Linked DNA regions of Homo sapiens. The protein of the gene in region 1 interacts with the protein of each later gene in a pairwise test. Each region holds a gene or a part of one and is shown in the gene's direction. Other genes may lie near its edges. The genes, in order: UBQLN1, IL37, SIL1 and PPP1R16A.

The links.
Region 2: the proteins of UBQLN1 (region 1) and IL37 interact in binary tests that used the Homo sapiens proteins (3 or more experiments, as listed by UniProt).
Region 3: the proteins of UBQLN1 (region 1) and SIL1 interact in binary tests that used the Homo sapiens proteins (3 or more experiments, as listed by UniProt).
Region 4: the proteins of UBQLN1 (region 1) and PPP1R16A interact in binary tests that used the Homo sapiens proteins (3 or more experiments, as listed by UniProt).

Annotation. Positions count from the first base shown.
Region 1 is NC_000009.12:83,676,942-83,683,965, reverse strand, and holds part of UBQLN1 (ubiquilin-1), read left to right. Parts: intron 1-899; coding exon 900-1,015; intron 1,016-3,928; coding exon 3,929-4,191; intron 4,192-5,366; coding exon 5,367-5,525; intron 5,526-6,004; coding exon 6,005-6,239; intron 6,240-7,024. UniProt on the Homo sapiens protein: Plays an important role in the regulation of different protein degradation mechanisms and pathways including ubiquitin-proteasome system (UPS), autophagy and endoplasmic reticulum-associated protein degradation (ERAD) pathway.
Region 2 is NC_000002.12:112,906,372-112,914,166, forward strand, and holds the start of IL37 (interleukin-37), read left to right. Parts: upstream 1-4,793; 5' UTR 4,794-4,877; intron 4,878-6,591; 5' UTR 6,592-6,641; coding exon 6,642-6,723; intron 6,724-7,420; coding exon 7,421-7,483; intron 7,484-7,795. UniProt on the Homo sapiens protein: Immune regulatory cytokine that acts as a suppressor of innate inflammatory and immune responses involved in curbing excessive inflammation.
Region 3 is NC_000005.10:139,188,361-139,195,384, reverse strand, and holds part of SIL1 (nucleotide exchange factor SIL1 precursor), read left to right. Parts: intron 1-7,024.
Region 4 is NC_000008.11:144,480,967-144,487,990, forward strand, and holds part of PPP1R16A (protein phosphatase 1 regulatory subunit 16A), read left to right. Parts: intron 1-7,024. UniProt on the Homo sapiens protein: Inhibits protein phosphatase 1 activity toward phosphorylase, myosin light chain and myosin substrates.

The DNA of each region.
Region 1 (7,024 bases):
CACTACAACCTCCGCCTCCTGGGTTCAAGTAGTCTTCCTGCCTCAGCCTCCTGAGTACCTGTGATTACAGGCATGTGCCACCATGCCCGGCTAATTTTTGTATTTTAGTAGAGATAGGGTTTTACCATGTTGGCCAGACTGGTCTTGAACTCCTGACCTCAGTTGATCGCCTGCCTCGGCCTCGCAAAGTGCTGGGATTACAGGCGTGAGCCACCGCACCTGGCCAAGATAAAAAAGTTTTTTATATAGTCAAGCTTTGTGGGTGTAACTGGTCATTGGCTTCCCTCTTATGAGATAACCTACCTCCATCTCTTACATAAGCAATATGATTGAAACTAATGAAATATTTGTGTACATTATACTCAAAGAGGAGGGGCAATTGCAGCATATTTTGTATTTTGTAGGGTTTTATTTTATTTTGTATTTTTTGTTCCTAATGCTTAGTTTTCTCAGGCTTTTTACTAAATGATAATTTGATTTGGTCTGAGAGTTTACCCTTTATTTCTAGATGTCAGGATTTCAGTGGTTCTTTTTTTTTTTTTTTTTTTTTTGAGACGGAGTCTCGCTCTGTTGCCCAGGCTGGACGGAGTGCAGTGGCGCGATCTCGCTCACTGCAAGCTCCGCCTCCTGGGTTCACGCCATTCTCCTGCCTCAGCCTCCCAAGTAGCTGGGACTATAGGCACTCGCCATCACGCCCGGCTAATTTTTTGTATGTTTAGTAGAGATGGGGTTTCACTGTGTTAGCCAGGATGTTCTCTATCTCTTGACCTCGTGATCAGCCAGCTTCGGCCTCCCAAAGTGCTGGGATTACAGGCGTGAGCCACTGTGCCTGGCCTTTGGTGGTTCTTTTAAAAATAATCAGCTCTACTGCTTACTCTGTGATTAATTATTTTCCCTAGGCCTCAGGATCATTCAGCTCAGCAAACAAATACAGCTGGAAGCAATGTTACTACATCATCAACTCCTAATAGTAACTCTACATCTGGTTCTGCTACTAGCAACCCTTTTGGTTTAGGTAAGTGTCTTTAGTCATTCCAGTAGGGATGGGAAAAAATACTCCTTTCCCTTCCTGGGTAGTTTCAGATAAAATGAGAAAATAAAACATTATGTCACTTTAACAACAAAAATTAAAAAAAAAAAACATACATTCCTATAATTGTAGATATTAAGGAAGTAGTTGGGGATATGGATATTCTTACATATCAGTTGGCGCCTTTCTTTTTAATGATGAAAGAGATGTAGTTTGTGTATACCTGATCTGACTACCACATAATTTAGTATGAGTAAGATTAGCTGGTTATTAATCGTAAGCCAGCGTCCCTGAATAATAATTTTTTCATTTGTAAAAGGAAGGGATCAGACTGCATTAGTTATTTTGTAACTGTCCTGAACACATGGAAGGGGGTCTGGGAAGCCAGCCTCGCCTAAAACTGCTTTTGTTTTTCTTATATTAGTTTTTGTTTGTTTGTTTGTTTGTTTTTTTAAGAGAGGCAGGATCTTGCTCAGTCACGGAGGCTAGAGTGCAGTGATGCCATCCATAGCTCACTGCAGCCTCAAACTCCTGGCTTACGGTGTCCTGCTGGTGTCCCAAAATGCTGGGTTACAGATGAGAGCCACTGTGCCTGGCCTGTATTAGATTTATATATTGAGGTTCTGTGGAATATATATATATATATTTTTTGAGACAGAGTCTTGCTCTGTCGCCCAGGCTGGAGTGCAGTGGCGCGATCTAGGCTCACCGCAACCTCTGCCTCCTGGGTTCAAGCGATTCTTCTGCCTCAGCCTCCCGAGTAGCTGGGATTATAGGAGTGTGCCACTACGCCCGGCTAATTTTTTTGTATTTTTAGTAGAGACTGGGTTTCACCATATTAGCCAGGATGGTCTAGATCTCCTGAATTTGTGATCTGCCAAAGTGCTGTTATCCATTTTCTTTTGATAATAGATAGCCAAACTCAGTGGCTTATTACAACAAAGCTTCATTTCTTGCTGCATTTTTCTGCATGCTACGCTTTTTACCGGTTTGTAAGGTGCCCATCCATATAGTCCCTCAGAGACTCAAGCTAATGAAAGTCATTTTTCATTCTGCTGTATTATAGCTCTACCATTTGGAACACGGCAGAAGAGACAGCTACAGGGTTTTAAGTTGAACCTGCTATACTTTGGCCAGAAGTGGCATATATCATTTCTTGTAGTCCTTTGGCATTTCACATAGGCCTGTCCAAGTGCAAAAGAAATAATAAGGCTGCAAAATGAAATGTTTGGTGAGCACTGCTATCTGCTACTGTAGTTAGTCATACTGAAGTTTTTGTGGTTTCAAGAATGCATTAATACATTTATTTTTGTGCTTTTTGTATATGGTGTTCATTGTGCCTAGTATTCAGTCCCCCTCCTAACCTTCTTCACGTTTCCTTGCCAAAGTATTTATGCTCCAGACTCATTAAGTGTTATCTCTTCTTCTGAAAGTAGCCATTCCACTTGGGTTATATTACCATAATATCCTGTGAATATTCTTTACTGAAGTACTTAGCATCTGTATAGACATTTATTTTCTTGTCTGTCTTTCCTACTAGATTGAGTTCTGAGGATGTCTTTCTTGTTGCCTTATTCTCAATACATATGTAACACAGTCTCTGGCATATATAAAAAGTGCTCAGTAAGTGAGAACTGAATGCATTTAGTTGGTTATGTAATTTTACGAAGTAAACACTTTGTGGTAAGCACTTGGTCATCCTGTTGCTCTGTTAGGTTTCTCCTTGATTGAAGTCCTCCAAAGAGAAATCTATTTCCAGGTATTCCCTGGCTCTCTGTCTCCTTGACTGGCAGTATCAGCCCTCTTGTACCCAGTGTTTATAGGTGAATTCTGCTTCCTGTTAATAAAACTTAAACTAGTCTTTTGGAAAGATTATTAGAAGCATAGTCTGGTGTGTGTATTTATTATTTCTTCCTTTAGCTGGCATAATCTGGACTGTTTTTTCTGACACCAGCCAATTGTCCAATACCAGCTCTGTGTCCAAGATTCAGCTTCATTTCTGATACTACCTACCTACAGTTAGTGTCTGATCTCACAAGTTAGCAGACTCAGTCCTGCAAGACTGCCCCTACTTCAGATACTGGTCACAAGTTCTAGGCCATCTGTACTTCTGACTGACCAGCTCTAAGTTGGGGGTTCCCCTGACCTCCTCCTCAGGTTCAATAATTGCTAGAATGGCACCTAGAACTCAAGGAAACACTTATGTTTACCTGTTTATTATAAAGGATACAACTCAGAAACAGACAAATGCTTGGAAGATAATTATTAGGGCACAAGGTATGGGTATGTGGGGGATGGAAGTTGGGCTCAAAGGTTCCATCCAGGTTTCCTCAGCGCACAACCCTCCTAACACTCAGATGTGCTTTTCATTTTGAGTTTTCTTAATTTTATTGTTGAAGAATTTGCATAGAGCTCTATCTCCACCTCCCTACCCTTACTTTCTTGGTGGGTGGGGCTGAAAGTTTTAGCCCTTTAATCACTTTGTCTTTCTGGTGACCAGCTCCTTTCTGAGGCTTTCCAGGGGCCTAAGTCACTTCATTAGCATAATGATCAAAAGGGCTTGTAATGAATAATAAAAGATACTCCTGTCACTCAGAAAATTCCAAAGTTTTAGTAACTCAGGATCAAGGAGAAAGACCAAATATATTTATTATTATACTACATACATGAAAATATATTTTGTTGATTTTATTACTTTAATTACCAAAGTGTAAATTTTTGGCTAATTTCAATGATAGGAATTAAATATTAGTAATAGGTATTCGATTTGTTTTTAAATGATTTCTTGTAATAGACTATTGGGTCAGCTAATACTTTTTTGCATCTTCATATTTTATGTCATGTTAATGATAAATTTTCTGACTTTGATTTGTATGTTTTTGCCCTTTATCCTCTTAGGTGGCCTTGGGGGACTTGCAGGTCTGAGTAGCTTGGGTTTGAATACTACCAACTTCTCTGAACTACAGAGTCAGATGCAGCGACAACTTTTGTCTAACCCTGAAATGATGGTCCAGATCATGGAAAATCCCTTTGTTCAGAGCATGCTCTCAAATCCTGACCTGATGAGACAGTTAATTATGGCCAATCCACAAATGCAGCAGTTGATACAGAGAAATCCAGAAATTAGTCATATGTTGAATAATCCAGATATAATGAGACAAGTATGTGGAAAGTTCTTTCAGTTCGTTTAGCTAAAAAATGATATATTTGTTATTTAATTTTCTGTGGTTAATGAGATTGTCCTGTATGTATGGTTAAGCTAAAGAGAGAAATCCTTATCTTGGTTTAAGAAAACTCAACAAAGCGCTAATTTGGCTGTTTGAACTCTGAATTTTCTGTTAAATTGAAGGATCTTTGTAAATAGTTTATTTTGAAGGCTTAAGAATCAAAAAGTCCAATGCTGGAGATGGGAAATTCACTCATAACAAAGTGCTTCCTTCTTTATGTTATTTGAATGCTAAGTTGCTTTTTTGAGGTGAAATACACCAGGGATTATTTAAAATAACCTCCTGCCTTATATGTTGAATACAAAATTGCAACAACTTTAAAGCTTTAATTGGTTTTTATTTGTGATTCTAGAATCAGACAACACCTCATTTTATAAAATAGAGTGTTCTCATGAGCTGAGCAGAAGAGGTTGGCTTTATAGGCATAAAAGGGCTGAAGAAAGCAAAAACGAACAAAAAGCAGATGGGTCATTTCGAAGTTACTTTCCTAATAGGGTTAAAATGGAGGGAACTCTTTCTTGTTACAGTGACTCACGTTGACTGCAGCTTACTATGGTTTTGGGGGGGAAACTGGCCCCTTTCATAGTTCACTTTGATTACATGGCACTTGGCACAAGTGGCTCTATTTTGGTTTGTTGTGGTCTGCTGGGGCATAGTGCAGGAGGCTGGTCCAAAACAGTGGCCTCCTGGCCGGGCGCGGTGGCTCACGCTTGTAATCCCAGCACTTTGGGAAGCTGAGGTGGGCGGATCACGAGGTCAGGAGATCAAGACCATCCTGGCTAACACGGTGAAACCCCGTCTCTACTAAAAAATACAAAAAAAAATTAGCGGGGCGTGGTGGCGGGCGCCTGTAGTCCCAGCTACTCGGGAGGCTGAGGCAGGAGAATGGGTGTGAACCCGGGAGGCGGAGCTTGCAGTGAACCAAGATCATGCCACTGCACTCCAGCCTGGGCGACAAAGCAAGACTCCGTCTCAAAAAAATTAAAAAAACAAAACAAAACAGTGGCCTCCCATAAACTTTGTTTAATGGCAGTTAATAAAGTAATTAATGTAATTCATGTGTATTTCAATGCCTTTTTTTTTTCTTTTTTTGGAAATATTTTTCGTAGACGTTGGAACTTGCCAGGAATCCAGCAATGATGCAGGAGATGATGAGGAACCAGGACCGAGCTTTGAGCAACCTAGAAAGCATCCCAGGGGGATATAATGCTTTAAGGCGCATGTACACAGATATTCAGGAACCAATGCTGAGTGCTGCACAAGAGCAGGTGATCCACTGGCTCCAAGGTTCAGGCCAAGGAGTAGCTTCTGTTTTAACACAAATATGTGTATGATTGAGGGTAGCTTTTATATGAGGAATGTGGTTTTCAATTTTTAAAAAGTTCAGTGGCCGGGTGCAGTGGCTCACGCCTGTAATCCCAGCACTTTGGGAGGCCGAGGCGGGTGGATCCCGAGGTCAGGAGATCAAGACCATCCTGGCTAATACGGTGAAATCCCGTCTCTACTAAAAATACAAAAAATTAGCTGGGCGTGGTGGTGGGCGCCTGTAGTCCCAGCTACTCGGGAGGCTGAGGCAGGAGAATGGTGTGAACACAGGAGGCGGAGCTTGCAGTGAGCCGAGATCGCGCCACTGCACTCCAGCCTGGGTCACAGAGCGAGACTCCGTCTCAAAAAAAAAAAAAAAAGTTTCATATCTTATTTAAAACAAAAGCTTATTCTTTGTGATTTTTTATGTCTTTTATTACAGTTTGGTGGTAATCCATTTGCTTCCTTGGTGAGCAATACATCCTCTGGTGAAGGTAGTCAACCTTCCCGTACAGAAAATAGAGATCCACTACCCAATCCATGGGCTCCACAGACTTCCCAGAGTTCATCAGCTTCCAGCGGCACTGCCAGCACTGTGGGTGGCACTACTGGTAGTACTGCCAGTGGCACTTCTGGGCAGAGTACTACTGCGCCAAATTTGGTGCCTGGAGTAGGAGGTATGCTTTTAACAACTCAGGCTTTTTTCTTTGTTGTCCTCATTTACATAATTAAAACATTGTTTATACTCTTATTCTTTGTGCTTTTGTGTGTATGTATAGTGAGTATCTTTTATAAACTATATTTTTCATGTTGCTTTTGTTTTGTTTTGTTTTGTTTTTTTGAGATAGAGCTTCGCTCTTGTTGCACAGGCTGGAGTACAATGGCACGATCTCAGCTCACCGCAACCTCTTCCTCCTGGGTTCAAGTGATTCTTCTGCCTCAGCCTCCCGAGTAGCTGGGATTACAGGCACCTGCCACCATGCCCGGCTAATTTTGTATTTTTAGTAGAGACAGGGTTTCTCCATCTTGGTCAGGCTGGTCTTGAACTCCTGACCTCAGGTGATCCGCCTGCCTTGGCCTCCCAAATTGCTGGGATTATAGGTGTGAGCCGCTGCACCTGGTCACATTTTGTTTTTTAAAGGAAGCTTTAAATGTAGAGAGAACACTTATTTACTTGTGTAGTTGTTACTAGTTACCTGTGTAGTTGTTACTAGAGCACATGTTTGCTGTCTTTAGCCTGGTTTTGTATTTTAGATCAGTAGATTGTCAAGCACCCGTCTTGAGGTCAGGGCTATACTGGCTGCATCAGAGCACCTGCCAGGTTTATTAAAAATCAGATTCCCAGATCTTACCCTCAGACTTTGTGGAGCCAAATCTTTCATAGTGGGGTTAAGATCTGTGTTTGTGTGAAGCAGATTCTCATGTGTGAACAGGTTAGAAATTTACTTTTGTCCACTTTTCT
Region 2 (7,795 bases), on another chromosome or scaffold:
AAGGAAGAAATGGAGGCAGAAATCCCCAGGAGCCCAGCATGGTACAAGGCTGAGCTAGTGCTGCAGAGCCTCCTTGGAACAGCCACAGAGCTTGCATCTGGCCCTGGAGGAACCTCTTCTAGCTGGCAGGACCAGCCACAACAGTGGCCAGGGGATTTCCCAGGGCGTGGGCTCCTAGGAGTTCATTTGGACCAAGCCTGCCTGGAGAGGGGTTATAACAGGGATCCTTCCCTACTGGCAGGTGATTTACCCCTCGGTGAGAAGCTCAGGCATTTGTTTGATGGAAGGTGGAAGGCCCTGTGCTGGGCCAGTGACTATCAGGGATGGGCGGGTGGCTGGAAAATAGCAAATAAGACAATATGATAACACAGTTAACCACCACACTATGTGAAGCTACAATATGGGTATCTGTAATAGACAATTCCAATGTAGAGAATAATTCTAAGGTGTCATTCTCCCCCCCAATGCCATAAGCACACGGCCTCTGCCTGGGTTTCTCACTGTGGAATGTCCTCCTGGTCTCCTCATGCCCAGAGAGTGGGAAGTACTCCTACTTTAACACCGGCTTTCCTGTCATCTCCCTGCAGCCCTCCTCAGCCCCCTCTGCACAGGGAGGTTTCCTCCCTGCTGCTGCAGTGCTTTGTACTTGTTAGTGGTACCTGCACACAGGTATTGGTGTCCTTGTCTCACCACCCTACATCACTGTAAGCTCCCCAGGAGCAGGCTTCCTGTTTGACTCACCTGTGATCCTCCACCTCCCACCCTGTAGTGCCTCAAGCATTGAGGACAATCACTGGCTGCCCCTTAACCCAGAAATGCTGCCGAGACAGGAGGCCATGGCCCAAGTTCCTGGAATGGGGTATTACTATGTCAGCACAAAGGCCTTTGCACAAATGAAGGCTTTAAAAATGCAGTCCTAGTCAGGTGGAGGAGGGCTTATAGGATTCCCAGGAATCTGGATCATTCTCTTGAGAGCTTTCCCTTGTCTCTGTTAAAACTCACATCCTACGGCCCAAATAACAACAAAAAATGGATGTAAATTCTTGAAATAACTTGTGGATGGGGGAACAAGGCCCACCCCCCAGATCTGCCAGAAGCTTCAGGTGAGGGTCCCAAATGCCAAAAAGTCTGGTATCAGAGAGGATGGCCAGTGACCTGGGGACACATGCCCTTTGCTGTGTCACTCAAGGAGCAGCAGCCTCGGCCCCGCACAGTGACCAGGACCCTGGCTTCCCACGCTGGGCAGGAGCTGGTGTCTGATGAAGGGAATGCCTGGCAGCACGTGCTGTCTGTCTCCTCGTGTCAGCTTACCTGGCTTTGCTGCGAAGAGGCCACTTGCATTTCTTTATTTTTTATATTTTTTTAATTTTTTAAATTTTTTTATTTTATTTTTATTTTTATTTATTTATTTATTTTTAATTTTTTTTTAATTTTTTAAATTATGCTTTAAGTTTTAGGGTACATGTGCACATTGTGCAGGTTAGTTACATACGCATACATGCGCCATGCTGGTGCGCTGCACCCACTAACTCGTCATCTAGCATTAGGTATATCTCCCAGTGCTATCCCTCCCCCCTCCCCCCACCCCACAACAGTCCCCAGAATGTGATGTTCCCCTTCCTGTGTCCATGTGATCTCATTGAATTTCTTTAAAGGTGGAATCTCTCAGTGGGGTCTAATCTGTTCAGAAATATCAAAAGAGTATCCTTGGGAATGACTGGAATTCCAGAGTCATCTGGTAATCCTCATAAAACAACTCCTGGATGTCTCTCAGCACATCTCCCACCTTGAATGCAGGAGGCTGGTTCAAATGGAGGAGCATCGCTCTACTGCACTTTTTTTTTTTTTTGGCCTAAAGTGCAAAAGGGGATACGTTTCATGTAAATAAATCAACTGCAAATCGCTAGTTATGCTGAGCCCTGTCCCGTGCTGTGGACACAAAGGAACCAAAGGCTTTTCTCCCCGCCCAACACACACATAACACACACACAAAATCATAAAAACATACATACCCCCAACACATAACAACACACAACACACACACAAAATATATACACACAACACACACCAAACATGCCCACAAACCTGTGTCCAGAGATAGATCCTACTGGTGGGTTTGTGGTCTCGCTGACTTCAAGAATGAAGCCGTGGACCTTCGCAGTGAGTGTTACAGCTCTTAAAGATGGCATGGATCCAAAGAGTGAGCAGTAGCAACGTTTACTGTGAAGAGCAAAAGGACAAAGCTTCCACAACCCAGAAGGGGACCCCAGCAGGGTTGCTGGTTGGGGTGGCCAGCTTTTACTTCCTTTTGGCCCCTCCCATGTTCTGTTTCCATCCTATCAGAGTGCCCTTTTTTCAATCCTCCCTGTGATTGGCTACTTTTAGAATCCTGCTGATTGGTGCATTTTACAGAGTGCTGATTGGTGCGTTTTACAATCCCCTTGTAAGACAGAAAAGTTCCTGATTGGTGTGTTTTACAATCCTCTTGTAAGACAGAAAAGTTCCCCAAGTCCCCACTGGACCCAGGAAGTCCACCTGGCCTCACCTTTCAACTCCATAATGGCATGAAAATACATATGTTGTACAAAACATACATACACAAAGTATACATGCATCTCCCCAAATATACACATACCACAGAAACATACACACAGGAACTCAGCTACCTGTCAAAAGTCTGCATGGTGATTGCCTCTGCAGTGAGTAGTTAGAAAAGTGAATTTGTTTTTCAATAAATTGGAGTCCTTAAAAATCGTTGTAAGATAGAAAATTTTTAAAAGTATATAAAATAAAATATGTATGTCCTTTGGTCTAGCATTTACACATGTAGGAATTTATCCTAGTGGAGTAATCAATGATATATGCAAAGATTTGGACAAGCATATTAAGCACAGAATTATGTATGCATATGTGTGTGTATATATATATATATCTCATACATATAATAATGTAAAAGTGAAAATAACTCAGATGTTCAAAATTGAGGATTAGTTAGACTATGATCTGTCCATATGTGACATACAAGTTAGCTGCCCCTTATTCTCTCGAGCTTCAACCTCCTATAAACAGTGTCCCTTGTATATCAGTATTGGTACAGATAATCGAACTTATTGAGGTTTTACATGGGGCAATAAAGGCAAGAGTTTATGAATACTCCATACTACACTAGGTAGCACCCCCTATTAAAGACAAACTCTTCTCTCTCATTTCCCTTCCTTTCCGGAACCACTTGGTTGAATCTCTACAAGTCTCTATTGCAACTGCCTCAACATGGCACCCTCCCTGCATCTCCATCTTCCCTGTCCTGAGAGCAATGGCCTGCTGCCCCCACACTCACATCCTCATTCATTCCAGAAGTGAGCACCACAGAAGTGCCTACAGTTACCCCAACCACCTTCTTAGAAGATAAGTTAGTGTTTGTTTTGACTTTTTAAAATTTTTACTTCCTCTTTTCCTTCACAATCTCATCCCATCCCAAGAGGTTTATCAAGAAGTTCTCTAAAGATATGTGTCTCCTTATGGAATTTAACAGAAATCAGGGATTTGTATTCTAGCCATCAAGGGAATAACATTTTTCCAGGTCTTTAGACAAATAATGGAATACCTTGCAGTAATTAGATACACTATTGTAGAAAAGTATTGATGAAATGGAACGATGTTTGAGATATCATATTGAGTAGAAAAGGCAAGATACATTAAGTAGGAAATGTATCTTACAAAATAATTTGTCAGACACACTCCTATATTTGTATGTTATATAAATGCGTATGTGAAGAAAGGCTAGAGGATGAGACCACAGTCTTCGGTGAAGTTTAAGAGATGAGGCTGCAGCATGCTCAGAAAGGCCTGGGTTATAGTTCTTCCAGTAATTAAGGATGTGATCTTGGGTAAATTGTCCATCCTCTCTAAACTGCACCACCTTTTGTCTGTAAAACAGGAAGGATGGTATTTACCCCCAGGGTCATCAAAGGATTTGGTTGGAGAAAAATAAATAAATGGGCTGAGCCCAGACCTGGCACAGTGAGAGCACAGTGGTTGACTATTGTGCTGGCCTGTTGTTCCTGTGTTATTGACATGCTGCTGGTGGTGGTCCAGAAGCTATTACCTTAATTGGTTATGTGGATTTCCCCTCATACTGAGCAGCTGTGTGTGGTGTTGTAAAACATAGCCATACACAGTAACTGACAAGGGCAAATGTGATGGAAAAATGCAAGGAAGTGCAGATAAATAGCTAATGGGCTGTAGAAGGAAGCTAGTCCTTGGAGGGCTTGATCAAGGAAGGTCCTTTTGCATGTCACCTTTGAAGAAGAGGGGACATAGAAGAGGTATAGTGCATCCCGGAGTGTACCTGGAAGGGAACATGAAAAGAGGACATTTTTCTCTGGGACATGGGGACTCCACTTGCATGAACTCTGGAATTGGGGCAAAGAACCATCATGAGAACAAGGGCTTCCTTGAACCTCCCAGGCTCATTGGCTGATCTAAACCCTGTGTCCCCTCTTTCCTTCACTCTCCTCTGTTTTCTATACCTGTATTATTGGACTGGACTGGAAGCCACCTGATCTATCACAAGTACCTTGAAATGTGTTGAATAGGTGTGGCACAGTCCTTAGCAGAGTGGCACTACCCCCACAGGAATTTGTTTATACCGTTGGCATGGAAAATAGCAGGAAATGAGTGATCACTGATAACTGAGGATGCTATTTATTATTGGCCAAAGGAATACTTGTGTTGTATTTGCATAACCACTCACAAACTGTTGATTACAAATGAGTACCAGACCTAGCTCCTTCAAGTAAAGGATCCTGAGAACTGAAGGCAAACAGAGCTCCAGGAGTCCAAGACAGAGCCACAGACCACGAGGATCCCTGGCCCAGGTAGGTGGTCCTCCTGCACTGGCTTTCAAGGCCAACAGGATGGATGGGGAAGTAGAGTAGCATCTGGCCATCTAGACCCTTGCTTTTTATCCCCACTGGAAGCACATCTGAATTTCTAAATATGATCTCTGAGACCTGCCCAGAACACCTTGCTCTCAGCCCCAGTAGCAGCCTGCTCTCTCCCAGGAGGGCTTCCACTAACAAGTAGGGCATTGCTGGAGGGCCAGGCAGACACTAGCTTAGGAAATCCACCAACCCTGGAAATGCTAGTCCCTTCTCTGAAGGCTCAGAAGACTGACTTTAGAGTCTAGAAAATATTGGTCCTTGGGAACAGATTTTGAGTGCAAAGAGATGGACTTCAGATGGCCAGATGCACTGCTTCTTTAGGGAATTCTGTGAAAGCTCCCTGCATTTATCTTAATACAGGCAGCAGATTTCATGAGTACCCCCGAGGGATGGCCCCAGGTCCTCCAGCCTGTGAGCATCCTTCTGTCCTTCAGCAGCACCACAGTATCTTTATATGTCTTTGGATACCTACGTTTCTGCCAGACATCTCTTGCTCTGATGTTCTGGCTGCCAAATTCTCTGTCAAGCGCCTCCAATTTTTTGTGTCCTTTGATTTACCCCAACATGACAAAGGCAGTTGTGCTTCATGTATTCAGGGATACTGCCAAACCACAAACAGGTTAAAATCAAATAGCAGATATCCCTGTTCCTAAAGACCCATCAGCTCTACCCACCTGCTCCTGCTCACCGTCCTTATTGTTGAGTCCTGAAGCCCTTCCTTGTCATTTTTATTTTTTGCATGAACAATTTAGTTCCCTTTGTCTCACTCCTAAACCTTTCTCAAAGGATTGGATTTGTACACAAACTGCCTATCTCTGCAATCTTAGAAGTGATATGATTCTGAACAAATCACTTAACTTTTGATTTTTTATCGGTAAGATGGGAATACCAATTTTTGCTCCACTTCTGTCCTATGTTGGCCTGGGCTGATGTTGAAAGCTCTCGGTCAACTGAGATAGGGTGTGCAGAATTTATATATATAAATATATCTCCTCCAACCCCTCCCAATGAAGCAAGTCACGTGAGTCAATCCTACCCTAAGATATTAGGGATTGAGCCTCCTGGGACATTTGGTGGCTTAGGTTTTCATGAAAAGAGGTTGCAGAGCAACTGCTTTTTGTTAGGCAAAGATTAGGCTACTGCAGAGACTCAGCAAACTTCTATAGAAGGTGTCAGATGGTAAGTATTTTAGGCTTTGCTTGCCAGATGATCTCTCAACTAGTTAACCATGCTATTGTAGCCTCGAAGCAGCCAGAGACAATATGTAAACAAGAGCATGGCTGTGTTTCAATAAAACTTTATTTAAAAAAACAGTCAGGGACCGGATTTGGCCAAAGGCCATAGTGTGCCAGCCCCAAGACTAGAGCAATGCACTTTTAACTTTTTTATTTTATTTTTGTAAAATGCCAAGATCCACAAAAATGCTATTGCACCCCGTGTGTTAGCACTGTGACTCAAGGTTTGGGAAATTCTGCTTTGAAGGCGTGATAGACAGGAGAGCATGGTCTGGCCCCTTGGTGCCTTTCTGGTTGCAGCGAGCATTTCAAACTACAGAGCAAGGCCAGTGGTCTGTTCAGCACTAGAGACATGCAGCAAGGTGTCCTGGGGTGAGAAGATGCCATAACTGGTCCCCTTTCTATCTCCTTAGGTCTTGGACTTCATTCCATTTTCTGTTGAGTAATAAACTCAACGTTGAAAATGTCCTTTGTGGGGGAGAACTCAGGAGTGAAAATGGGCTCTGAGGACTGGGAAAAAGATGAACCCCAGTGCTGCTTAGAAGGTAAGGTTCTTGTAGAAATCTACCTCAGGGCCAAAGTGTAATTCCTAGAGCAGAACTTTGCTAGGTGCTGTGCACAGACCCAGTTGTTTCCTGCTGACTTGCACAGTAAGTGAGCTTTCAAATTTCCCTGGACAAATAACTAGACAAGAGAAATTCTGGAAGGGAAAAGGAAGCTTTGCTTCAGTGTCCAGGCACATCAGGTAGTAGATAAAAGGATCGTCCTCACCTACAGATTTGGGGCTTTAGCATCCTGTTTGCCAACTGGATGGTTGCATATGCTTCAAAATGCACCTCTTCCCTCCCAACATTCCCAAGTGGAAGAGAAGCCTCCGATGAGAAGCAGCTCTCTAAGGCTGGGCTGAACAAATGACCCAGGCACAGGGCATCTGAGTATTCCATGAGGAACACATTTGGGTGTTGCCCATGGGGGACAATAGGAGGAGGCTTTTGACCCAAATGATTGTCTACTGAGGTGTGACGGGAGAGGCCTGTGACATGCCAGAGGCCAAACCCGTGATCCAGTTCATCTCTATTCTATGTTTCTGAAGAGGGAAGCTATGATTTAATGTCATTACTATCATGCTGCTCTAGTATTTCTCAGCACATACACAGAAGAGGGAATTAAATGGTCTTTGATACCCCTAAATCCTTGGAAAATCCGAATTGCATATGCTAACCTCACTGCGTCTGACTGCAGACCCGGCTGGAAGCCCCCTGGAACCAGGCCCAAGCCTCCCCACCATGAATTTTGTTCACACAAGTAAGGCCTCGGGGTGAGGTGATGGGGGTGGCTGAGGTGCGAGGGTGGGGATGGGGGATGGAGCCATTGGGTCCTCTTACAGGGTGGGAGAATTGTAGAATGGGGACACCTAAGGGTGCTGGATGGGGCTGAAGTCTTTCCTTTGTGGAAGCAAATCCCATTAGGAGATAACTCTGGGAAAGATGAGCCCGGGGAGGGGCAGGTGATGCTCACCTGCTAAGAGGCACAGGGCAAGGAAGAGTTTGTGCCTGGGAACCTTCCAGGTGCCTCTTCTGACCATAGCCAAGAGACTGGAGACACAGACCTCCTCCC
Region 3 (7,024 bases), on another chromosome or scaffold:
AAAAAACTGGGAATAATATTTACTTTGAAGGGTGGTTAAATGACGTATTACACATGAAAGCTCTTGGGACATAGGAATGCAATAAATGTTTTCACCCTCAAAGAATGAAGATTTGCCGTTAATGAGAATATTCAAAAGAACATGAGAGTCTCTGGCCGGGTGCGGTGGCTCACACCTGTAATCCCAGCACTTTGGGAGGCTGAGGTGGGTGGATCACCTGAGGTCGGGAGTTCAAGACCAGCCTGACCAACATGGAGAAACCCCGTCTCTACTAAAAATGCAAAATTAGCCGGGCGTGGTGGCGCATGCCTGTAATCCCAGCTACTCGGGAGGCTGAGGCAGGAGAATCACTTGAACTCGGGAGGCGGAGGTTGCAATGAGCCGAGATCATTGTGCCATTGCACTCCAGCCTGGGTGATAGAGCGAGAGATTCTGTCTCAAAAAAAAAAAAAAAGGCTCTGAAAGGAAGTTGTACCTTTTTCGAAATAGGTGGATTCTCTTTTTCACATACTTGTGGATTCATACTCTGACCTGCTCAGCCTCCCCCTGTCTTTCTTCATTCATTTTCTGTCCTTTCCTAAGTGAAGTTTTGCTGCAGAGGCTGTCTGCCAGTCTCTTGTAGTAAGCCTCTTTTCAGGAGAGCTAATCTGAACTCTCTTACAATGCTAGTCCCTTAGTCGCTATTCCTAGGGATTTTTTTCTGGGGGCTCCAGATGGTGCTTGGATCACGCTCTGTAGCACAGCCATCTCTAACTCCTGGATTTGGTGTCAATTTGGAGACCCATCCTGTGGAGCTAATCTTCTCTCTTTCTGAGCAAGGATGAATACTTTATCCTTTTCTGAGTCGGCCTTAAACTGCAAACCTTAGTCTTCTACAGCAGAGAGTCTTGTATTTTAATTATACGTAGACTAAAGACGGAATAGCATGCCCTTTTCTTTTCTTCCTTTACTTTCACCAAGGATTTCACTGCTGAGTAGGGGAGTAGGAGAATAGCCTGTTGCCATTCAGAGTGAGGCCTTGGGTAACCCCTGATTCCTAGCATAAGCAATAACTGAGTTCATCTTTGGGACAAAAACCTTGTAAAAGATTCGGGCTGCTCAGACACATGTGGAGAACCTCAAGCTAGGAATTTTCCTAGCTTGTGAGGAGTTTACACCTGGCATTCTTACTTTTGCAAATTTGTACCCAGAATCCAGTAGCAACAAAACTATATTCAGCCCAGACTTGTAGTTCCTTCAGGTTCCACCAGGCAGCTGTAAGACATGGCTGTGATTATGCTGGCTGGCCATGTTTGCCTTCATCCTCCTAATACTGCCCTTGGCTTTGGTATTGAGAAGGAAGTGGCATAATCAATTCATGAGTAACATTCTCTGCCAAAGTGGAAATCAGGGGCAGAGAGTTGTGAGCATAGGACTAGACAAATGGAAAGAGCCAGCCTTGCCTCAGGAATGCTGCTAAAGTGCTGTGAATCCGTGACAACCACTGTGTTTCTTGGTGTCACCTCATTTGTGAAATGGGAATGCCTTCATTGATCTCTCTCTTGAGAAGAGTGGACCACCATGCCAGTTTTCCCAGGACAGAGGGATATCCGTATGTGGGACTTTTAGTGCCAAAAGCAGGAAAGTCCGGGGCAAACCAGGACAAGTTAGTTACCCTACCCATGACCATTATACAAGTTAATGAACACTGTGCCCTTAGGGTTCATCTAAGACTCAACCCTTTGGGTTCATCTAATTATTTTTCAACCTTTTGTTCATTATCATATTTTGAGACTTTTTTTCCCTTAATTGTCTACTCCCCAGTGGAATGTTTTTTTGAGAGGGAGTCTCACTCTGTCGCCCAGGCTGGAGTGCAGTGGTGTGATCTCTGCTCACTGTGGCCTCTGCCTCCTGGGTTCAAGTGATTCTTGTGCTTCAGCCTCCTGAGTAACTGGGATTATAGGCGCCCACCACCATGCCCAACTAATTTTTGTGTTATTTAGTAGTAGTTTTTGTGTTTTGCCATGTTGGCCAGGCTGGTCTTGAACTCCTGGCCTTAAGTGATCTGCCCACCTCAGTCTCCCAAAGTGCTGGGATTACAGGCATGAGCCATCGTGCCCAGCTACCCCCAATGGAATTTTAATACCACAGATGTACTGTGTATCTGTTTTTGTATTGTGGCCCTTTGGATGGCCACAAACCATTGTAATATCTAACTTTTTTTCCCCCAAGAATCAATTTTCACCCCTTCTGGGCTGTTACTGCACTCACTGAGAATGCATGGTCTTATCTGATATTCTTTCTTTAATGTAGTCATCAAGGCCAGTTTTTTATCCAGAAGAAACAGCTAGTACCACAAGCTTTTTCGTTTCCTTTCCTGTTTTTTTTTTTTTTTTTTTTTTTTTTTTGAGACTGAGTTTCGCTCTTGTTGCCCAGGCTGGAGTGCAATGGCGTGATCTTGGCTCACTGCAACCTCTGCCTCCTGGGTTCAAGTGATTCTCCTGCCTCAGCCTCCTGAGTAGCTGGTACTACAGGCATGTGCCACCACATCTGGCTAATTTTTTTTTTTTTTGGTAGAGACAGTCTCACTGTGTTGCTCAGGCTGGTCTTGAACTTCTGGGCTCAAGCATTTCTCCTGCCTCGGTCTCCCAAAGTACTGGGATTATTAAGTGTGAACCACCACACCCAGCCAAGTTTATTCTTTATTGTTTTAATTTTCTTCCAGTCTTTGGATTTTGAGGTGGTCCATTTATCATCTGCTTCTCTGGTGCCTCTTGGACCTTCCATCTTCACAGCTGGGGCTGCTGTGTTGGCCCAGGTGTCCCCAGACTGGACATCGGAACCTTTGGGAAGAGTCTGATGTTTGGCCCTTGTCACATTTCACATTTCACATCTACAGAGAAATGGGGAAGGGTATGTTTCTGAGGTCTGCTCATAGGCTATGTTGTGACTGAGGAAGTTCTTGATCATCCCTTTTGGTTACCACTTATCATCACTGGCAGAAAAACATCAAAGTGGTCAGTGAACTCATCTCCACATCTGGCTACTTCCATCTCTGCAAGTAGTTTGCTTCTTCAGTCTTGTGATGGGAAAGAGATCTAGAAACTGGAAGAATAATCTGAGATACATCCTAAAGTTCTGGTGAGGAAAGCTAATGCCAATGGACTTTTTTTTTTTTTTTTGAGATGGGGTCTTGCTATGTTGCCCAGGCTAGTCTTGAACTCCTGGGATCAAGCAATCCTTCCACCTCAACCTCCTGAGTAGCTGGGATTACATGCATGTACCACCATGCCTCACTCGCCAGTGGATTTTTTTTTTTTTTTTTTTTTTTGAGACAGCATCTTGCTCTGTTGCCCAGGCTGGAGTGCAGTGGCACAATCTCGGCTCACTGCAACCTCTGCCTCCCAGGTTCAAGTGATTCTTCTGCCTCAGCCTTCCGAGTAGCTGGGACTACAGGCGCCTGCCACCACGCCTGGCTAATTTTTGTATTTTTAGTAGAGATGGGATTTCACCATATTGGCCAGGCTGGTCTCAAACTCCTGGCCTCGAGATCTGCCGGCCTCGGCCTTCCAAAGTGCTGGGATTACAGGCGTGAGCCACTGTGCCTGGCCCTTTTTAAGAGGGTCTCACTCTGTTGCCCACGCTGGAGTATAGTGGTGTGATCATAGCTCATTGCAACCTCCAACTCCTGGGCTCAAGTGATCCTCCCACCTCAGCCTCCCAAGTAGCTAGGACCATGGGTGTGCACCACCATGCCTGGCTAATTTAATTTTTTTTTTTTTTTTTAAAGAGACAGGGTCTTGCTTGCAACATTGCCCAGGCTGATCTTAAATTCCTGGCCTCAAGTGATGCCCTACCTTGGCCTTCTAGAGCACTGGGATTACAAGTGTGAGCCACCATGCCCAGCTATACCAGTGGGCTTTTAAATGGACATTTCTTTACCTCTGGGGATAGTCTCATTTTTGTGAGGCTCCCAAGGGGAAAGCAGCCATCTGACCAAACTAGAAAACTAGCAGGCTTCAGCCCAGTGGAATAACATAAAGTAGGACAATCGATACAGACAACATTGATTGGCCATGCTTTGAGTGCTGTGGATAGTGTGTATTGGAAGCTTAAGGGGCCAGCTCATAAGTAAGTTGTAAGTAAGTATTTAAGGATGCTTTTTTTTTTTTTTTTTTTTTTTTGAGACAGAGTCTCACTGTCACCCAGGTGTGAGTGTGATCTTGGCTCACTGCAACCTCTGCCTCCCAGGTTCAAGTGATTCTTGTGCCTCAGCCTCCTAAGCAGCTGGGATTACAGGTGCTTGCCACCATGGCCGGCTAATTTTTGTATTTGCAGTAGAGATGGGGTTTTACCATGTTGGCCAGGCTGGTCTTGAACTCCTGACATCAGGTAATCTGCTCACCCCGGTCTCCCAAAGTGCTGGGATTACAGGTGTGAGCCACTGTCTCTGGCCTAAGGTTGCTTCTTGTTTTTCCCCACACCCCATCTCATACTCATGGGGAGTTGGGTTTGACTGTATTCTTGAAGTTAAGTCTCCATCCTTGGACCCAGCTGCTAAAGTCTAAAATGATTGTGTTTTGGGCTGGAAGATATTATAGAGATCTTTATTTCCTTGCAAACATCAGGGCTGGCTGTTTGTGGTACTGTGGATGAGTGAAGAGTCAGGAGATACACTTCTAGTTCTGTTACTGCCCAATGCCTCCATTTTGCATTTGATAGGTTTTTATTTTTCTGACGACAAAAACTGAGCCCCAGAGAAGTGAAGTGGGCCACGTAATGGTAGGATCTTTTTTAGGCCACCCACATAATAGTGGGACTCTAGTGTTAGAGCTGGGACACAGGCTAGGGGTCTTACAAAGGGTGGCCATAGAAGTTGTTAGAATTGTTTAAAGCATTGTAAAGATGCAGGATGCTTTTGCAGTTAAAAGTCTCCTGGGAAGGAGGAGGCCCTGTCTCCACTTACTGCCTTGTACATGATCTTATACCCTCATGGTTGAAGATTTTTGCTGTCGTGCTGTTTTTCCTCCTACTCATGTCGAAATGTGTTTCTCTTGCTCTTACCTCAGAGGAAATGAATTTGAAGCCTTCCTCCGTGTTAGAAACAAATAGTGCTCAGGCCAGACTTGTGTGTTTCTGTAAAGAATGAGGCCAGATGTAACAGTGGACCTTATCTGGTGATCCAAGCAAACCTTCAAGACATCTCTAAGAGAAAGAGAGAAGGAATGAGTGTATTTCAGAGTGGTTTAAACACACTTTGGAGTCAGACTCACTTGTATTTACGTTCTGATATCTACTTACTAGTTGTCAGATTGTAAGTTACTTATTTTCTCTAAGCCTTAGTTTTATGATCTGTTGAATGGGAATAGTAATATGTATTTTTATAGCTATCTTAAGAATTCAGAGAATAGATATGGTGCTTCCTCTGGCACAATGTAAAACAGCAGTCCCCAACCTTTTTGGCACTAGGGACTAGTTTCATGGAAGACTATTTTTCCATGGACTGGGGGATGTGGGGGATGGTTTGGGGATGATTCAAGCACATTATATTTATTGTGTACTTTATTTCTGTTATTATTATTTTTGAGACAGAGTCTCACTCCATCACCCAGGCTGGAGTTCAGTGGCACAGTCTTGGCTCACTGCAACCTCTGCTTCCCAGGTTCAAGCAATTCTCCTGCCTCAGCTTCCTGAGTAGCTGAGATTACAGATGTGTACCACCACACCCGCTAATTTTTGTATTTTTAGTAGAGATGAGGTTTCACCATGTTGACCAGGCTGGTCTTGAACTCCTGACCTCAGGTGATCCACCCGCCTGGACCTCCCAAAATGCTGGGATTATGGGCATCATGCCCAACCTATTTCTATTATTATTACATTATAGTATGTAATGAAATATACAACTCACCATAATGTAGACTTAGTGGGAGCCCTGAGCTTGTTTTCCTGCAACTAGACGGTCCCATCTGGGGGTGATGGGAGACAGTGACAGATCATCAGGCATTAGATTCTCATAAGGAGTGTTCAACCTAGATCCCTTGCATGCACAGTTCACAATAGAGTTTGTGCTCCTATGAGAATCTAATGCTGCCACTGATCTGACAGGAGGCGGTGCTCAGGCGTTAATGCAAGCGTTGGGGAGCAGCTGTAAATACAGATGAAGCTTTGCTCACTCACTTGCTGCTCACCTCCTTGGATGGGTTTCTGATAGGCTACAGACCAGTATCGGGGGTTTGGGACCCCTGATGTAAATGCTCTGTGTTGTCATCATTATTGACAACAATAGTTTCCAGTTTCTGAGCCACGTCGTAGTTTCAGGATAGGTTATGCTGACCAAGCAAGTTTTATCTTAACCATCACCTCATTGTTGTCTTAGTTGGTTTGTATTACATATTATTTATACCAATAGTTATAGGTATTTCATGCTGAATAACTAAAAGTTGTGAGTAGCAAGGAACTTTGCTGCTTCTCTGCCATCTCCTTCCTTACTCAGCTTAGTGCTTATCTTTCTCAGGTTCTCTCTTGTCAGGTGCTCAAGCCAGCAGGCCTTGTTTCGGGGGCAGTGTCTGATGAGGGGATTTTATTGGGGTAGGGCTGGCTAGTCCAGAGCCTGCCTGGTCCCTCAGATAGTATGTTCTCCTTATCTCTTGCTTTCTGCTCTTCAGCCAGACATGAAGCAATTAGCTCATCAAGGGAATGTTGACTTTTGTCACTGCTTTCCTCTGATTTGTATGCTCATTTCTGGTCCTTGTGCAAAGTCACGGAGGCACAGTCACATACACTGACCCAGATTTTGTGCTCAAGTTGACTGTCTCTCTCTTTGAGATGTACAACTGGTTCCATGTAGCAAGGGAGTGAGGAAAAAGCCCCTGGAGCCAATCCCATTATTTTGATCTCAAGTTGAGTTTTTAAAAAAATCCAAGCACTATGACTATAGACCATGCCTCACTTCTCTGTATGAAACAAATAAGGTAAAAAAAACTCACTATTTGGAGGGAAGGCCAATCTGAATTGGTAAACAATAGGAATTAGTACATTCAAGAAA
Region 4 (7,024 bases), on another chromosome or scaffold:
CAAGCTCCGCCTCCTGGGTTCACACCATTCTCCTGCCTCAGCCTCCCAAGTAGCTGGGACTACAGGCGCCCACCACCACGCCCGGCTAATTTTTTGTATTTTTTTAGTAGAGTCGGGGTTTCACCATGTTAGCCAGGATGGTCTCGATCTCCTGACCTCGTGATCCGCCCGCCTCGGCCTCCCAAAGTGCTGGGATTACAGGCGTGACCACCGCGCCCGGCCTGTTTGATGGGTTTTGTGAACAACGTCATAATCCAAATATAAAACATTTCCGTTGCCCCCAAAAGTTCTCTCGTGCTCCTCTGTGGTAAGCCCTTCCTCACACCCAGCCCAGGCAATAGTGATCGCTTTCTATTACTGTAGGTTTGGCGTCCCTTTTTAAGAATTTCACATTGGCTGGGCGTGGGGGCTCACGCCTGTAATCCCAGCACTTTGGGAGGCTGAGGCGGGTGGATCATCTGAGGTTGGGAGTTCGAGACCAGCCTGACCACCATGGAGAAACCCTGTCTCTACTAAAAATACAAAAAGTTAGCCAGGCATGGTGGCGCATGCCTGTAATTCCAGCTACTCGGGAGGCTGAGGTAGGAGAATCCCTTGAACGTGGGAGGCGGAGGTTGCGGTGAGCCGAGATCGCACCATTGCACTCTAGCCTGGGCAAAAAGAGCGAAACTCCATCTCAAAAAATAAAATAATTTCACATCAATGGAATCATATGGAATGAATACTTTTGTGTCTGATTTATTTTGCCAGATGACAATGTTTTAGAGATTCAAGTGGTTTTGTGTATCCGTAGTTGATTCCCTTTTTCTTTTTTCTTTTTTGTTTTTTTGAGACAGAGTCTTGCTCTGTTGCCCAGGCGGGAGTGCAGTGGCACGATCTTGGCTCACCGCATCCTCCGCCTGCCAGGTTCAAGCAATTCTCCTGCCTCAGCCTTCTGAGTAGCTGGGACTACAGGCGCCTGCCACCATGCCCTGCTAATTTTTTGTATTTTTAGTAGAGACAGGGTTTCACCATGCTGGCCAGGCTGGTCTCGAACTCCTGACCTCGTATCCGCCCGCCTTGGCCTCCCAAAGTGCTGGGATTACCAGTGTGAGCCACTGTGCCCGGCTGCCGCCGCCGCCGCCGCCGCCTTTTTTTTTGAGATGGAGTCTTGCCAAGTGCAGTGGTGTCATCTCGGCTCATTGCAGCCTTGGCCTCCCGGGTTCAAGCGATTCTTCTGCCTCAGCCTCCCAAGTAGCTGGGACTGTAGGCATGTACCACCACACCCAGCTAATTTTTGTATTTTTAGTAGAGACGGGGTTTCTCCATGTTGGCCAGACTACCTGAAGTGATCTGCCTGCCTCAGCCTCCCAAAGTGCTGGGATTATAGGCATGAGCCACCGCTCCTGGCCAGTTTATAGTTTTCTTATTTTTTATTTTATTTTTATTTACTTATTTTTGAGATGGAGTCTTGCTCTGTTGCTCAGGCTGGAGTGCAGTGGCACAATCTTGGCTCACTGCAACCTCCACCTCCTGGGTTTAAGCAGTTCTCCCTGCCTCAACCTCCCGGGTTTAAGCAGTTCTCCCTGCCTCAACCTCCCGGGTTTAAGCATTTCTCCCTGCCTCAACCTCCCGGGTTTAAGCAGTTCTCCCTGCCTCAACCTCCCGAGTAGCTGGGACTACAGGCACATGCCAGCATGCCCAGCTAACTTTTTTTTTTTTTTTTTTTGGGACAGTCTCACTCTATCGCCAGGCTAGAGTGCAGTGATCTAGGCTCACTGCAACCTCTGCCTCCTGGGTTCAAGCGATTCTCCTGCCTCAGCCTCCCGAGTAGCTGGGACTACAGGCGCCCGCCACCACGTCCAGCTGATTTTTGTAATTTTAGTAGAGACGGGTTTCACCATGTTGGCCAGGATGGTCTTGAGCTCCTGACCTCATGGTCCACCCGCCTCAGCCTCCCAAAGTGCTGGGATTACAGGCGTGAGCCACCGCGCCCGGCTTATTTTTTTGTATTTTTAGTAGAGACGGGTTTTTGCCATTTTGGCCAGGCTGGTCTTGAACTCCTGACCTCAGGTGATCCGCCCCCCTCAACTCCCAAAGTGCTGGAATTACAGGTGTGAGCCACCGCGCCCGGCCCAACTTTCATTTCTTTTGCGTATGTACCCAGAAGTAGGATATGCCTTCTTTTTTATGTTGTGTGGCTGACAGAGTTACGTTCTGTTCTGTAACGATGTTCACATGTCAGTCTTTCTATCTACAGAACCAGGCAGTGTGTGTAAAGTAGGTTTCCTCATCTGTGGGTCCAGTGTCCCAATTCCTGCCTCCTACAAATGATGTTCTTGGCTGGCTTCAAGTTCAAAGGCTTTCCTCCTGTTTCATGCATCATCAGTCTCCTTCATCACGTGAATTTTTTGAACTTTGTCATCCTATGTGTTGTGTCGTTCTGTTTTCTTTATTTCTTTTTATTTATTCATTTATTTTTGAGACGAAGTCTTGCTCTGTCGCCCAGGCTGGAGTGCAGTGGCACCATCTTGGCTCACTGCAACCTCTGCCTCCTGGATTCAAGTGATTCTCGTGCCTCAGCTTCCTGAGTAGCTGAGACTACAGGTGCATGCCGCCACGACCGGCTTTTGTATTTTTAGTAGAAATGGGGTTTTACCCTGTTGGTCAGGCTGGTCTCGAACTCTTGACCTCAGGTGATCCACCCGCCTTGGCCTCCCAAAGTGCTGGGATTACAGGCATGAGCCACTGCGCCCGGTCTCTTTTTTTTTTTGAGACAGAGTCTTGCTCTGTTGCCCAGGCTGGAGAGCAGTGGTGTGATTAGAGATCACTGCAGCCTCAAACTCCTGGGTTCAAGCAATCCTCCTGCTTTGGCCTCCCATATGTTGGGATTATAGGCGTGAGCCACCATGCCCAGCCCTTCCCTGTTTTCTTTTTCCTTGGCCACCTTCCCCTGCTCATCTCTCTGCTCTGACAGCTCCTACCATCTTTCCTTCCAACTTCTAGGAATGTGCTGGCTGACTGTGAGCTCTCTTTCTTGGAAATGCCTTTCCAGCTCCTGTCCCAGGCTCACAGGCATCTCAGTGGCTTACTGTGTCACCTGCGCCCTAGGTTGGTTGTCTAGACCCCACACCTCTGTTGTCCTAAGGCTGGGGACCCTCACGGTCCCAGTGCTGCCTCCTTCCACACTCCCAGGCCCTGTGCCACTGGCACGTCTGTCCGCAGGTCCCCTTCCCACAGCCCCACCTAGACCGAAAGGTCTGTGTCTCTGTGAGGAAGTGAATACCGAGTCAGAGCAAATCCTGGGTTACAGCGCCGACCCCTCTGAAGCTCACTTTTGTGATTTTGGTTTCCTCACCATTGTACTTGACAGACCTTAGTTGCCACATCTACTCCGTGGGGGTTATGGCCCATTAGAGCTATGAGGCTGAATGAGGCAGTTCATAGGGAAGGCTGCTTGTGGCCCTGGCTTCTAGAAAGGTGTGATTTGCAGGGGCTGCTAGGAGCCCTCCCTGCCCTCTCTTCCCTTTCTTTTGGTCTAGGGCTGGCTTTTATCTTCAGTTCTCGTTGAGTCTCTTTTCAAATGCAGATGCCTCAGGCTGCCAGCTTCTTTCATTTAGGCATCTGGGCCTTTGACACCTTGCTGTGAGTTAGTTTATTCGATTTATTTTGAAGCCAGGTGGCAAGGGGAAAGGAAATTGAAGAGGGAGATGCAACGCTTCCCCTGGTTTCTGGGGAGAGGCTTCCCCAATTCTCCAGCCCCTGACAGACATTGCGTGAGAGCTCATGGTTAGCGGGCCAGTCCCTGGTGTGGTCCACGCGTATCTCCTGTCCCGGGCTGGAAGCATGATGTGTGCAAATGTCCAAATCACGGGGTCTTCCCTCCCTCACAGGGCTTTAGCCAGGCAGCTGTTACTGAGGTAAATAATGATTTGTGTTTGTAGATAAAAAATAGTGGAATAGTTTCAATTTCATATGGTTCTGCTGCTGGGTGTTATGCAGGGGGAATCTGAGGAGCACTGAGATCACTGGGAAAGAGGCCGGGTGCGTGGCTCACGCCTGTCATCCCAGCACTTCGGGAGGCCGAGGCAGAATGAAGAATCTCATGCCAGGGGCCAGAAAGGAGGCTGAGACCAGAGTGTGAGTAGGAGTCAGCCCCCTCAGAGGTGGGACCAGAGAGGAGGCTCCTTAGGAAGCCATAGTGAGGAGGACATGTGGGACAGGCTCAAGGATTGACAAAAGAACCAGTAAAAAAGAATAGAATCTCAAAAAAAAAAAAAAAAAAAAAAAAAAAAGGCCAGGCGCAGTGGCTCATGCCTGTAATTCTAGCACTTTGGGAGGCCAAGGTGGGTGGATCACTTGAGGTCAGGAGTTCAAGAATAGCCTGGCCGACATGGTGAAACCGTGTCTCTACTGAAAATACAAAAAATTAGCCAGGCGTGGTGGCACACACCTGTAATCCCAGCTACCCGGGAGGCTGAGGCAGGAGAATGGCACGAACCCAGGAGGTAGAGCTTGCAGTGAGCTGAGATTGCGCCACTGCACTGCAGCCCGGGCAACAGAGCAACACTCCATCTCGGGAAAAAAAAAAACAATAGATAAAGAAAAATAAATAAAAAAAGAAAAGAGATGGCTCAGAGATCCCTTGTAGACTTCCCGGGTACCCATGTGGTAACGTTGCACCTGTCAATGGAGTACAGCAGTTCAAGGGGATGTTGACACCAATGTGCTCCATTGACCTTATTCAGATTTCACAGCTTTCCATGTGTCTACCTGTGTGTGTGTGGTTTAGTTCTGCGCATCTGTCACTGTAGGGTTTGTGTGAGCCCATGGCCAAGATGCAGCACAGCCACCATAGGGACCTCTTGAGCTGCCCTCTTGCAGCCACAGCCACCTCCCTTTCCCAGCCTGAACCCCTGAGAGCCACTGGTATGTTCTCCATCTGTATGGTTTCACCATTACGAGAATGCTCCATAAATGGAGTGCTGCAGGGTGTGGGCGTTGAGGTCGGCGTGATGTCCTGAGGTCCATCCAGTTGTGTGCACTACTAGTGTGTTCCTTTGACTGGAGGAAACGTCTATGGTATGGATGGACGGACCATCATGTTTCACCTGTTACAAGACATTTGGTTTTTTCCCCCAGTTTTTTGCTATTATGAATAAAGTTGCCATGAACATTTATGTAGTTTTTTGTGTGACTTAATTTTTTTTATTTTTTGAGACAGAGCCTCACACTGTTGCCAGGTTGGAGTGCAGTGGTGTGATCTCGCGCCACCACACCTGGCTAATTTTTGTATTTGTAGTACAGATGGGGTTTTGCCATGTTAGCCAGGCTGGTCTTGAACTCCTGACCTCATGTGATCCCGCCTGCCCCAGCCTCCGAAAGTGCTGGGATTACAGGCGTGAGCCACCACGCCTGACTTAAATTTTCATTTCTCTGGGATAAAGGCCCGTGAGCGCAGCTGCTGGGTGGTTTGGGAGTTGCATGTTGAGCTGTTTTGGTTTAAGAAACTTCCACACTGCTCTCCAGAGTGGTGGCTGTTTTATTTCACAGGTTTTCATCAGCTCCTGTGAGATTCCTTTGTCCTCACATCCTTGCCGTTTGGATTCGTGGGCAGCGGTATCTCGCTGTGGCTCTAATTTGCATTTTACGAATGGCGGGTGATGTTGAGCATCTTGTCACGGACGCATTTGCCATCTGTGTATCCTCTTCAGTGAGGTGTGTCTTTGCATCCTCTGCCCATTTTCTAATTGGATCGTTTCATTTTTACTGCTGATTTTTTGAGACTCGTGTGTTCTTGACAGCAGTCCTTTGTTCTGTGTGTGGTCTGTGGATATTTACTCACTCAGTAGCTGTCTTTTCATCCTCCTCTCAGGGTTTTTAGCAAGGCAAAAGTTTTTAATCTTGTCAAGGTCCAGTTTTTCCGTTTTCCGTTTTATAGACTGTGCTTTTGCTTTTGGTGTCACCACTCTGTAGAAGTGCTATTATTTTACCTTTACGTTAGATTTGCATTTCACCTGGGGTGGGGGTCAAGATTCTTTTCTTTTCTTCTGTTTTTTTGTTTTTTGATTATTTTCTGTCACCCAGTCTGGAGTGCAGTGGTGTGATCTCGGCTCACTGCAACCTCCACCTCCCAGATTCAAGCGATTCTCCTACCTCAGCCTTCAGAGTAGCTGGGACTACAGGTGTGTGGCACCACAACCGGCTAATTTTTTGTATTTCTAGTAGAGACGGGGTTTCACCCTGTTGGTCTCGAACTCCTGATCTCAAGCAATCCTTCCCCCTCAGCCTCCCGAAGTGCTGGGATTACAGGCGTAAGTCACTGCGCCTGGCCCCAGCACCATTTATTGAAGGCTTTTCCACTCCCAGCAGTGTCATAAATTGCATGTCTACACATGTGTAGGTTTATTTCTGTTTTGTTTTGGGGACAAAACAAAACAGTCAGAGACAGAGTCTTTCTCTGTCCCCCAGGCTGGAGTGCAGTGTTGATTTCGGCTCACTGCAACCTCTGCCTCCCAGGCTCAAGTGATCTTCCCACCTCAGCCTCCCAAGTAGCTGGAACTGCAGGGGTGCACCACCATGCCTGGCTAATTTTTTAAATTTTGTAGAGATGAGAGTCTCCCTGTTTTGCCTAGGCTGGCCTTGAATCCCTGGGCTCAAGTGATCCTCCTGCCTCGGCCTCCCAAATTGCTGGGATTGCAGGTGTGAGCTGCCTCATCTGGCAATTTTCTGGACTCAACCGTATTCCATTGGTTTATTTCTCTATGCCTAAGCCAGTAACTTAGGTCTTACTTACCAAACTGTATATAATAAGTCTTGACATCTAATAGTGTAAGTACTTCAAATTTGTTCTCTTTCAGGCTTATCCCTAGTGTTCTTGGCCTTTTGTGTTTCCATATAAGTGGAGCATTAGCTTGTGAGTCTCACACTGTTGGGGTTTTGATTGGGACTACGTCAAATCTTGGATGAATTTGGGGAGAAATGACATCTTTTCAGTTCTGGGTTTTGCAACATATAACGAGATGTCTCCTCCTATATCTTCCCA